Regions from separate parts of the Homo sapiens genome. Here regions 1 and 2 are each linked to region 3. The links come from fine-mapping of genetic effects on gene expression. A gene starts in region 3. Each other region holds a variant in brackets. All regions are shown on one strand. Distances are from middle to middle. Region 1 overlaps SLC16A10 (solute carrier family 16 member 10). Region 2 overlaps SLC16A10 (solute carrier family 16 member 10). Region 3 holds the start of SLC16A10 (solute carrier family 16 member 10).

Evidence for each region. PIP is the estimated chance that this variant, and not a neighbour inherited with it, causes the effect.
Region 1: its variant is the best candidate, but not a certain one, in a credible set for the expression of SLC16A10 in whole blood (TOPMed, PIP 0.51).
Region 2: its variant is the best candidate, but not a certain one, in a credible set for the expression of SLC16A10 in whole blood (TOPMed, PIP 0.52).

Annotation. Positions count from the first base shown.
Region 1 is chr6:111,227,871-111,232,116 of GRCh38, forward strand. SLC16A10 (solute carrier family 16 member 10) reads left to right here. Exons shown (of 6, transcript NM_018593.5): 6 at 1-3,324. SLC60A2-DT (SLC60A2 divergent transcript) reads right to left here. Exons shown (of 3, transcript XR_001743807.2): 3 at 1-53. Among named protein-coding and RNA genes, the nearest start is that of SLC60A2-DT, 29 kb to the right of the region's middle. The variant G/T (reference allele first, on the strand shown) is at 2,308.
Region 2 is chr6:111,156,574-111,160,819 of GRCh38, forward strand. All of the region lies in intron 1 of SLC16A10 (solute carrier family 16 member 10), which reads left to right. Among named protein-coding and RNA genes, the nearest start is that of SNORD166, 45 kb to the left of the region's middle. The variant A/T (reference allele first, on the strand shown) is at 1,795.
Region 3 is chr6:111,084,822-111,089,067 of GRCh38, forward strand. SLC16A10 (solute carrier family 16 member 10) reads left to right here and starts at 2,682. Exons shown (of 6, transcript NM_018593.5): 1 at 2,682-3,274. The coding sequence starts at 2,932. RefSeq lists silencers at 2,363-3,042, 3,073-3,252 and an enhancer at 3,065-3,565.

The sequences.
Region 1 (4,246 bases), 140 kb after region 3:
GAAAGCCCAGCTGAGTCAACTCCTGCTTCATCAGAAGGGAGCTAATGGTGATTCTGGGATTAAAAAGCAAGGGGGGTGCAAATTGTTAGTGGGGTCAAAATATCAGTAAAATTTCTTAAGTGCTTTGTTCTGATAAACGGATGTAAAAGTAACAAAAAAGGAATAACAACTAATATGGCCTGTGGATCTGACAAAGAAAAACCTGAAGAAATTCAGAATCTAGATACACTTAGATTCTAAATTAGACACACTCAGATTCTAATGAACACTTAGAATGCTTCGCCAGTGGCTTTTCAAGTTACACTGGAAGCTTGATTATGAAAAAGTTTTGTTTTCATTGGCAAGAGGGTAGATGATCAGTGATGACAGATTGTACAGCTGTGCCCAAACCTGACAACTTACACATTAAACTCCTGTAAGAGACACTCCTTCCTAGTAGAACAAGGACTGGGACAATGAATTTTTGACTCACTGGAGTTTTTTAAAATGCTGTTCTTGAGTGTGGCAATAGTGTAGGAGTTAACCCAGTCTACCCAAAGAAGTTGCTTTGCCTTTCAATATGAGTGCTATAAAAAGAGTATTTTGGAGTTCAATGTCCCTAAACATGTATGCGATAGGAACTACCAATATAAAATAACACTTAGAACTCAAATTAGATTGGTAATACTATTTTGGAGCCTGTGATGTATGACTTTTATTCTTTACTAGATATTTTTCAGTATCCGTCATTAGAAGAGTCAGTTTGTTAAATATTTTAAATGTGTAAACACAAAACCTTTCTACTGTGATCTTCCCTAATGAGTCAAAGTATCTTTCATAATTCAGTCTATATTGAAATGTTATTTCAGGAATGGAGGGTTTGTTATTAATAGTGCTGGGCCGGGCACGGTGACTCATGCCTGTAATCCCAGCACTTTGGGAGGCCGAGACAGGCGAATCACCTGAGGTCAGATGTTGGAGACCAGCCTGACCAACATGGAGAAACCCCATCTCTACCAAAAATACAAAATTAGCCGGGCGTGGTGGCTCCATGCTGTAATCCCAGCTACTCGGGAGGCTGAGGCAGGAGAATTGCTTGAACCCAGGAGGTGGAGGTTGCAGTGAGCCAAGATTGCACCATAGCACTCCAGCCTGGGCAACAAGAGCAAAACTCTGTCTCAAAAAAAAAAAAAAAAAAAATAGTGCTGCATTTTGACCCTGGACTATGAACAGACTGTATAGTTGGTGCCTCTTTTTTTTCTACCAAAGATTATTAGATCAAGATTGGTGCTATACTTCATGTTCCTTTCAAAATTATTTTTCTTTTAAAAATATTAATATACAACACAATAGAAAATGTATACAGCCAGCAACGTTATGCATGTTGCATGTTATATACATGACTGAGGAAAAAAGCTCACCTATACAGTGATTATTGAGTTCCAGTATCTAGTTAGAGGTATGCAATTTTTGTTAACATATAAGACTTTAAATTACGAAACTCACAAGAAAATGATCACCAAATGAGAATGTTCTAATGAACACAACCTCCCAAGGTAATAATTTTAAAGAAAAAGTCCCTTGTCAATGTTTCTAGCACAAAGTGAGGGATTTAAATATATTCTGTAACTTTGAGGCAATGTGAAAAAGTTATATATAATAGCTTCCTATTGAGCTGGCTTATGTAGACATTTGGACATTTGAAACTATTTCGCAACTTTCAGGCTAAAATCAGAGTTTTGAGAGTCATCAATCTTAAAACATGGATAATGAGTTATTTGCACAGTTATATTTTTATAATTATTTGAAATTTATCACTGAAAGTATCATTGTTTGTCTTTCAGATTTAACATAAACAATAAGTACTGCGGCTGGGTCACTGTCAGCAAATCTCAGGTCTATGATTTATCAAGGGCTCTCAGCACCATCGTTGGTCTGATTGTGTAACACCTAAGTAAAATAACATATGGGTCTCCTTGGCCAGGCGCCGTGGCTCACACCTGTAATCCCAGCACTTTGGGAGGCCAAGGCAGGCGGATTGCTTGAGGCCAGGAGTTCGAGACATACGGGTCTCTTTAATGTTCTGTAGGTAGGATTCAGATGAATTGAGAATGACAGGTTTCTTTTTCTTTCTTTGTTTCTTTTTTTTTTTTTTTTTTGAGATGGAGTCTTGCTCTATTGCCAGGCTCCATATAGTGGCGCGATCTCAGCTCACTGCAACCTCCGCCTCCCGGGCTCAAGTGATTCTCGTGCCTCAGTCTTCTGAGTAGCTGGGACTACAGGTGCCCACTACCACACCGGCTAATTTTTGTATTTTTGGTAGAGATG[G/T]AGTTTCACCATGTTGGCCAGACTGGCCTTAAGTGATCCACCTGCCTCAGCCTCCCCAAGTGCTGGAATTACAGGCATGAGCCACCATGCCCGGCTAGAGAATGACAGGTTTCAGTTGAATTCTTCTCTTTTAAAAGACCCTGACTTAACTGTATTTTATGAGGATTTTATAAATGTAAATTAAGAAGACAATACACACTCTCATTTTCCTAATTAGAAAGACTATGCATTCACAATCCAGTACACTGGATTTGCTCTGGTAACTAATGATAACACTTTTCTACGTTAACATGAGTTATATTTGGCAGAGAGAATGGAAGCTTGCTAATCAGAAGTTACATTAGGGTGAGATTAAACATCACTCTAATAATAACTTCTGATGTAACTTAATGTGGTTTGAGATGTGTAAGATTGTAGAGGCATTGCACAATGCTTGATAAAAGTTGCATTTTGCTTTTGTTCTTCCACCAGTTTATTTTAGCCTTAAAGTTATAGCTACAACAAATTGAACCCTGTAGTTATTACTGAAAGAGAGTGTGGATATTTTAAGTATCTCCTAGTATAATATGACATTGTTCATGTGGACTTATTTTAATGTTTATTTGAAAATTAATTTTTTAATTATTTTGTATATTTTGAGTTAGAAAAACACACTTTATCTTAGACACCAAAGCCAAATTATTCCAAGTGTATGCTATACACCGCAGTGCAGCTCTGCTTCTCTCCCAACCTACCCTGGGGCCATTTTTGGCACAATAGTTGTTCAAATGTAGATCACTATGCTGAATGCTCATGCTGGATTTGACCAGTATGCAGTATTTTAGTACTTTTTAAAAAATGTATGCTTCTTTTTGAAGACTATAATTTACAATTTTTTTAATAATGTGCAATTTAATATAGATAACCAAAATCTTTTTAATGAAAAGATCTTTACAATTGCTTGGAGGATAAGATTATTTTACTGTGGAAAAATGTGATACTCTTAGTAAATGCAATAAAAACTTTTTAGCAAATTCCTATAAGGCTTTGTGGTTATGTTTGTGGAATTCTCTGGAGGGTGGGGGAGGGGAAATTATTGAAACGAAAGGAATAGTTTATGTTGAATAAAAGAAATAAGCTGTGTGCTTTTTACATTGCATATCTGTATTCTACATGCGTTTGGGTACTGTTATTTCCCCGGAGCAGGGAACAGGGATAGAAATGATCCAAAAGCTTTAGATAGTCTAAAAACCACTTCTATTTGACGCTTACTTTTTTTGTACTTGACTTACATTGCCATTTTTCTTACATTGATTACACTTACTAAATTCAGATGATACTCAGTGAGCTTCTACTGACTGACAATTTTAGGGGATAGTCAAGAACCAGGCTGTAAAAAAAAAAAGCAGTCCCATTACTGTGGATTGCTTGCTTGGATAAAAACTGACTCTGCCATCAGAAGATGTTTATGATTTGATGAGCCTTAACTACAAAGCAAATCATTATTTATGTTTAATAGTACTAATGAGATTTAATACATTAAACTCAAGAACTTGGCATTTGTGATATGTCATTTAATCCAAAAAGTATTTACATGTCAGAATGTGTAGGCCATTAGAAGACCTTTGAGGGAACTGAGGAGAGAATAGATATGACCAATTGTTACTGATCTTAAGCAGGATAAAATTCATTCTCCTGAGGAAAATTTTGGGTTTTTTTTGTTTTTTCTGAGATGGAGTTTCACTTTTATCACCCAGGCTGGAGTGCAATGGCGCGATCTTGGCTCACTGCAACCTCTGCCTCTCGGGTTGAAGTGATACTCCTGCCTCAGCTTCCCGAGAAGCTGAGATTACAGGCACCCACCAACACACCCGGCTAATTTCTGTATTTTTAGTAGAGAGGGGGGGTTTCACCATGTTGGCCAGGCTGGTCTCGATCTCCTGACCTCAGGTGATCTGCC
Region 2 (4,246 bases), 72 kb after region 3:
AAAAGTACTCCTCAATGCTGTCAAGGTCATCTGAAACAAGAAAAGTCTGGCAAACTGTCACAGTCAAGAGGAGACTAAGGAGATATGACGACTAAATATAATGTGGTATCTTGTATGGGATCTTGGAATAGAAAAAGGATATTAGTTAAAACTGAGGAAATCTGAGTAAAATATAGATGTTTGTTACTAATAATGTATCAATAGTAGTTCATTAATTGTGACAAATGTAACATACTATCGTAAGATGTTAATAATAGAGGAAACTGGATGTGAGGTATATGGGCACTCCCTGTACTGTTCACAATTGTTATGTAAATCTGAAACTATTCTAAAATGAAAGTGTATTTTATTTTATTTTATTTTGAGACGGAGTCTTGTTCTGTTGCCCAGGCTGTAGTGCAGTGGTGAAATCTCGGCTCACTGCAACCTCCACCTCCTGGTCTCAAGCGATTCTCCTGCCTCAGCCTCCTAAGTAGCTGGGATTACAGGCACGCGCCACCACACCCAGCTAATTTTTATATTTTTAGTAGAGATGGGGTTTCACCATGTTGGCCAAGCTGGTCTTGAACTCCTGACCTCAGGTGATCCACCTGCCTCGGCCTCCCAAAGTGCTGAGATTACAGGCGTGAGCCACCGCGCCCAGACAAAAGTTTATTTTTTAAAAGGTAGGAAAGTTTCACATTTTGATCGTACTATTGAGATAAAACTTGGTTGTTGTTGTTGTTTTTGAGATGGAGTCTTGTACTGTCACCTGGACTGGAGTGCAATGGCATGATCTTGGCTCACTGCTACCTCCACTTCCCGGGTTCAAGCGATTCTCCTGCCTCAGCCTCCTGAGTAGCTGGGACTACAGGCACCTGCCACTACGCCCAGCTAATTTTTTGTATTTTTAGTAGAGATGGGTTTCATTATGTTGGCCAGACTGGTCTCTAACTCCTGACCTCGTGATCCGCCTACCTTGGCCTCCCGAAGTGCTGGGATTACAGGCATGAGCCACCGTGCCTGGCCAAACTTGGTGTTTTCATCTGAGAATGAGGTTTCCAAGAATTGAAGATACAAGTTAGCTAAATAGTATCAGTGAAACCACAGAGTATAACTTCAGACCACTTGTGGTTTTAAGGCAGATCTATGCCACAGAGAAGTATTTGAATTTAAATCAAAGTATAAAATAAATATCTATGAGTCCATAATGATATAAACAAGTGATTGAATAAATACATAAATGTGGGAGACTAGACAAATCTCCCATGCAGAAGAATTCCAAATAGTTTATGTAGGTAAATATTTCAGAGTATCAGTACTATGATCCTTCTTACAATGCTATATCCGACTAAAAAAAAAAAAAAGAAAAAAAGAAAAAGAACTGTGATCCTAGTTGCGAATGTTGACTTATAGCCAGAAAAGATGACTTTCTTATTTGAAAGCATCATGAAATGCTATCAGCATGCAGAAATGAGAGGGCATAACAGAGAGCTATTCTATCGTATTTTTATTTAATGTTTTAAAAGAGCTATTAATAATATAATGTGAAGAGAAGTTTTAATTTCAGAGGAATGGGATGTTTGGTTTTAAGATTATTTTTGCAAAATGTAGTCTGTCATTTTTAAAGTGAACTTTATAATGAAAAGAGTTTGAAATTATTTCCCTATTATTAATATTTATTTATTTTTATTACTTTTCTGCCATGACAATTACAGTGCACATTTTCCCTATTTTTAGCTTTTTTCTGGTAAAGTGATTTTACCTCCTGTAGATCGTCAGTCCCCAGACTTTCTGGCACTAGGGACTGGTTTC[A/T]TGGAGGACAATTTTTTGACAAATTGGAGGGGGAATGATTTCAGGATAAAACTGTTCTATCTCAGATCATCAGGCATTAGATTCTTACAAGGAATGTGCAACCTAGATCCCCTGCATGCACAGTTCACAATAGGGTTTGTGCTCCTATGAGAATCTAATGCTGTGCTGATCCGACAGGAGGTGGAGCTCAGGTGGTAATGCTCGCTCACCTACCACTCACCTCCTGCTGTGTGGCCTGGTTCCTAACAGGCTCGGGGGCTGGGGACCCCTGCTGTAAATAACCTTTCGAAGATCTGAAAATTAACTTTAGTATTTTTTTGTATTTACTCGATATTTTAAACAAACAAAAATCTAGAGAATGACATAACAAATGTATTTTCTGCGTATCCACTACTCTTTACTCAGATCCTAACATTCTCAGTTTTGAAAAGATGTAGGCTGGTCACAGTGGCTCATGCCTGTAATGTCAACACTTTAGGAGGCCAAGGAGGACAGATCACGTGAATCCAGGAGTTAGAGACCAGCCTGAGCTATAAGGCAAAACCCTGTCTCTACAAAAATTAGCCAGGTGTGGTGGCCTGCACCTGTAGTTCTAGCTACTCGGGAGCCTGAGGTGGGAGGGTCAATTGACCAGAGGCTATAGTGAGCTGTGATCCTGCCACTACACTCCAGTCTAGGTGGCAAAGCAAGACCCTGACTCAAAAAAAAAAAAAAAAAAAAAAAAAAAAAGATGTAAACATTACAGGCCCAGCTGTGGTCCCGTGTACACTTCTCCATTCCTAATCCCCTTCATGCACACTTTCCCACAGGTAATCACTATCCCACATTTGCTTTAATTATTCCCATCATGTTTTATGCTATGACTACAAATGTGTGAATCTATATTCCACTGTATGTTAATACCAACATTTTTTCATTTATTTTACCGCTGATGGGCAATTTAGGTTATTTCCAGATTTTTACTATTACAGATGCTTCTGTGAACATCCTTACTCATTTCTCCTTGTGCACATGTGCAAAATTTCTCTGGAGTACATACCTGGGAGTGGAATTACTAGAATGTGGTGCATGTACATGTTGTTGTATTTATCAGTAGTTCACTCTTATTTATTGCTGTGTATTCCATTACATAGATATACCATAATTTGTTTATCTAATCACTTATTTATAGACATTTGGGTTCTTTCTGTTTTTTTGACTATTAGAAATAAAGCAGCTATAAACATTTGTATATAAGTTTTTGTATAGGCATATGCTTTGGTTTCTCTTAGGCTCAGGGGCTGGGAACCCCCTAGGAATGGAGGAATAGCTGGGTCATATGGTAGGTTTATGTTTAACTTTTTAAGAAATTCCTGAACTGCTTTCCAAAGTGTTTGTACTATTTTATATTCCCAGTAGCAGTATGTGAAAGTTCTTGTTGCTCTACATCCTCACCAACACTTGGTATGATTAGTCATTTTTAGATATCCTGTGATGTGTGTGGTTTTTCATTGTTTTAATTGACAGTTCCCTGATGACTAATGATATTGGGTGTCATAGGCATATTTTCCATTTATATATCTTTTTTGTAAAGTTCAAATTTTTTGCCCATTTTTAAAATTGAGTTGCTTGGTTTTTATTGAGTTCTGAGAATTTTGTATGTAATTTATATACAAGTTCTTACTAGATATGTAATTTGCAAATCTTCTCTCTCAGTTTGTGGCTTGTCTTTTTATTCTCTTAGCAGTGTCTTTCAAAGAGAAGTTCTTAGTTTTGATGAAGTTTAGTTTATCAACATTTTCTTGTACTGATTTCTTGTATGGGCATTTAGGTTTTTCATGTTATATCTAAGAAATCTTTGCCTAAACCAAGATCACAAAGATTTTCTCCGGTATTTTCTTCTTTTGTTTGAGACAGAGTCTCACTCTGTTGCCCAGGCTGGAGTGCAGTAGTGCAGTCTCAGCTCACTGCAACCTCCACCTCCTGGGTTCAAGCGATTCTTGTGCTTCAGCCTCCTGAATAGCTGGTATTACAGGCATGTGCCACCATGCTCAGCTAATTTTTGTATTTTTTTAAGTAGAGACAGGGTTTCACCATGTTGGGAAGGCTGGTCTTCAATTCCTAACCTCAGGTGATCTGCCCAACTCAGCCTCCCAAAGTGCTGGTGACACAGGATTTTGCTCAGCTACTTTGCCAACCAGGGACTCACTCGGCCATGGGCCAAGGCACCCCGCTCACTTGGTCCACCTGTGCTATAGCTTCTACTGACGTTCAGCGGTTCCCGAGCTCTTGTCATGCATCTAAAAAGAAGGAGGATATGCTGACAATTTGAAGTGTAAGGATGGGTGGAGAAGAATTTTACTGAGTTATGGAACAACTCTCAGCATTAAGGGGACACGGGGTGCTCCCTCACCCCCACAGTCAGGTGGTTTTTCTCTCTCTCTCTCTGTGTCTGGGTCTGGGGCTTTTTATG
Region 3 (4,246 bases):
CAATCCAATAACACAATGTGAGTTGTTGATTAGTGTGGACATAGAAATAGAAGGTAGTTTTCCTGGACACCTAAAACTCTGCTCCATTCAATAGCCTATTGGTAGTTAGAAGTAAACACTCTTTTTTTAAAGAGATGGATTATTACTTATGTTGCTTGAGGCCAGGAGTTCGAGACCAGCCTGGTTGCTGGTCTCAGCAATGTTGCTCAGGCTGATCTCGAATTCCTGGCCTCAAGCCATCCTCCCACCTGAGCCTCCCAAAGTGCTGGGATTACAGGCTTGAGCCACCACACCTTGCCTCATTTGTTACAATTAATGACCCAATGTTGATACATTATTATTAACTAAAGCCGACATTTTGTTCATATTTCTTTACTTTTAATCTAATGTCCTTTTTCTGTTCCAGTATCCATCCAGGATATCACATTACATTTAGTTATCATGTCTCTTAGGCTTTTTTTTTTTTTTTTGAGTTGGAATCTCACTGTCACCCAGGCTGGGGTACAGTGGCGCGATCTCAGCTCACTGCAACCTCTGCCTTCTGGGTTCAAGCGATTCTCCTGCCTCAGCCACCTGAGTATCTGGGATTACAGGCCCACGCCACTATGCCTGGCTAATTTTTGTATTTTTGGTAGAGATGGGGTTTCGCCATATTGGCCAGGCTGGTCTCGAACTCCTGACCTCAAGTGATCCGCCCGCCTCGGCCTCCCAAAGTGCTGGGATTACCAGCATGAGCCACGACACCCAGCCCTCTTAGACTCTTTTTTACTGTGACAGTTTCTCAGACTTTCCTTGTTTTTGATGACTTTTACAGTAATGAAAGTACTTAATGGGTATTTTGTAGACTGTCCTTGATTGGGATTTGTCTAATGTTTTTCTGATGGTTAGCCAGGGATTATGGGTTTTGGCAGGAAGACCACAGAGGTAAAGTACCATTTTCATCACATCATATCGGGGATACATTATCATCTAGTTGAGGTACTGTGTGCCATTTTTTGCACCCTAAAGTTATTTCTTCCCCCCACTCCCCCTTTCCATCCTATACTCTTTGGAAGAAAGTTACTACGCATACCCACACTTAAAGAGTAAACCATTGTACTTCACCTCCATGAGGGAGGGAGTATGTTCATAAAGTATTTACATTTCCTGCAGGAGAGATTTGTCTATTCTCTCCTCATTATTTATTTAATCATTTACTTACATCAGTACTGACTCGTGGATAATTCTTACATATGTGTTTGTTTGTGTGCATGCAAATATATAATCGATGTGCTTTCTTTGCCCAATAATATGTTGTGGACAACTTTCAAAGTCAATAAATACAGATGACCTTCAGAACTTTTAGAGGTTTTAAAGTAAGTATCTAATCAGTCTTCTACCAATGTACATTATACTTCCAAATTTTCCTTATTTCCAACAATACTGGGGTATCATCTTCATACATACATTTTTGTGCACTTATGTGCCTATTCCTTTGTTTACTATTTTACCCTCATTTCTAAGGCAGATTACACTTGAGCTATGTTCCCCATTCCACAACCAAGCACGGCTTGCTTTCCTTAGTTTATGCTATTTTCTCTACCTGGAATGCTCTTTTCCTGTCTTGACCCACTGAAGTCGTATGTATGAATCAGGGCTTCGGCCAAAGGCTGTTTGCTGTAGAGGCTCTTCTACAGTGTTTGGAGAGAATTTAAGGGACTATCTCATCTCTCTCTTTTGTACATGTATTATAACACATCATCTGAGCCTCCTAGTCTCTCCCAGGACTCTTTTTTCCTACCAGTTTATCAACTGATAAGAGGCAGAAACGAGATCAATCGCACTCATCTGTGTACTCTATCACAGTGGTGGGCACATCAAGTAACTAGCATATTTTGACTTTGATTGAAGTGAAGAATACGAATAACAGAAATTAAGAAGCATCCTCAATATTGCATAGCAGGTTACTCTTCTTTTCTTTTACATAGGATGGCACTCCATGCTTCAGGGAGACAGAGGAGTTGAATACAGGTTTTAGTTTTTGTTTAAAGTGAAAACGACTCTGATGTAGTTGAAAAGTAATGCTTTCTAGCTGTCTGTTAAAAATGTTTGTTGGTTGAAGACTTCGGAATTGCAGTCCAGTGAGGACTGAAAATAAGCATCTTTGGTGTGCCAAATATTCATAAGGAAATTGTATACGAATGCAAGAGAATGGAACTGAAGTAATAAAATAAGGGCTCTGATCCTTCAGATGACTTATTTAAGAAGCCAGGTGGCATAACGAATCTTACATATTATAATTAGTACTGAGAGGTGAATGCCAAAACATAAAACAAACACAATCGAGACAATGTTAGTGTGACTGTGACGCTGTGTCGGTGAGTTGAGGCTAACGATCCAGTGTGGCTCTCCTGAAGGCCCACCGCGCCCGCACCTAGGAGACGCGCCCCTTCTGCTCATGCTTTGAGGCGGGGTGACCCACACATCTGTGCCCCTCTCTGAGCAGGAGGAGGCCCCGTCGCAGACGCGCGCGCAGACAGCGTCTGCCGCGGGCACCTGGGGCCGCGCGCCGCGGGGCGCCCCGCCTCCGCTCTCCGAGGCCCAATCATCTGGAGGCTGTGGGGGCACGTCCCGCTCCCGGCCACGCCCCCAGCCGGCGGGGCGGGGGGTGCTTTTAAGAACCGGCGGCTGGCAGTGGGCTCAGTCGGGGGTGCGGGGCTGTGACCTAGAGGCTTCAGTGTCGATCCCCGAGGTGTTCGCGCGCGCCAGCTGTCCTCGCGGCCGCCTGCGCGCTGGCCGCCTGCGCGCTGCCAGCCCGCCCGCCCGCCAGGGGCTCCGCCGCCCTCGCCTCGGCCTCGTTAGCCCGCCAGGAGCCCCGCAGCTCCTCCGGGAGCCCGCTGGTAACTCGCGTCCCTCGCGCTTCTCCGGCGCCTGAGGGGCCCGCCTCGGGCCATGGTGCTCTCCCAGGAGGAGCCGGACTCCGCGCGGGGCACGAGCGAGGCGCAGCCGCTCGGCCCCGCGCCCACGGGGGCCGCTCCGCCGCCCGGCCCGGGACCCTCGGACAGCCCCGAGGCGGCTGTCGAGAAGGTGGAGGTGGAGCTGGCGGGGCCGGCGACCGCGGAGCCCCATGAGCCCCCCGAACCCCCCGAGGGCGGCTGGGGCTGGCTGGTGATGCTGGCGGCCATGTGGTGCAACGGGTCGGTGTTCGGCATCCAGAACGCTTGCGGGGTGCTCTTCGTGTCCATGCTGGAAACCTTCGGCTCCAAAGACGATGACAAGATGGTCTTTAAGACAGGTGAGGCGCGGCGCCCGCCGAGGCCAGCCTGGGCGACCCGCGTGGGGCCCCCGAGCGCATCCCGCGTGTGGGCTGTGTCTGCCTCCGAGTGTGCATGTCGGTGGGTCCCTGTGCCAGAGGGTGCGAGCAGGGGGGTCTTTCGAGTTGCAGACAGAGCCTGCCGCTTCTGGGGCCTCGGGGTGCCCGTCTTTATATGGAATCCAGCTGCAGAGCTGTGTGTTTGCAAGCAGGTCGCAGAACTTACTTGCCGAGATCGTCCTCCTTTCCCCTCAGCAGAGCAGACGCTAACAGTCCACAGGAGCCCTTCCTTTTATTGTTTGAAAACAAACAGAACCCCAGAACCTTCAACCCCAGTCATCGCCCTGTCATTTTTGTGGTCTCTTTCGTGACTATGCCAGTTATGTAGTTCTTCACCTGCCTCCCTGGGCCGCAGAGGGGTGTGCGTATGTTGGCGGGGCGGGGGGTGGAGTTTGGAGGAATGAAAGAGATTTGTACGAAGGTCACTGGAGTTCCAAAGGGGGCCCTGCAAGAGTCACGGTTCCGTGCGTTCCCGTCCCCCCGCCTTTTTTTGCCCTCTGGGTTAAATGTAGAAAACACGGGAGGCAGCCGGATTAGGGACTAGGATGAGGAAGGTGAAGGGTTGCTTCTTCCCTCTTCCTGTTGTGTTTTTTGACATTTTTTTTTAACCATATAGTAAATTAGATACAAAAGGTGCAGATTCAGCGTTTTCTCCCTGTAGAGCATTATTATGACTTTTTGGCTGGTTAGGCAAAAAACAAATCTAAGACCTTCTGCATGACACTTTAACATAAATTCTTTCACTTTATCCTGCAAGGTGAGCGCGGTCAACCCCATTTGGGTGAGAAAACTGTAGCTCAGTGAAAGTGTCTTGGTGGGTAGTAGAATGGCAATAAAACACATATCAACTGACTTCAAGGGCTAAGTGATTTCCATTACTAAATCAACCTCCCT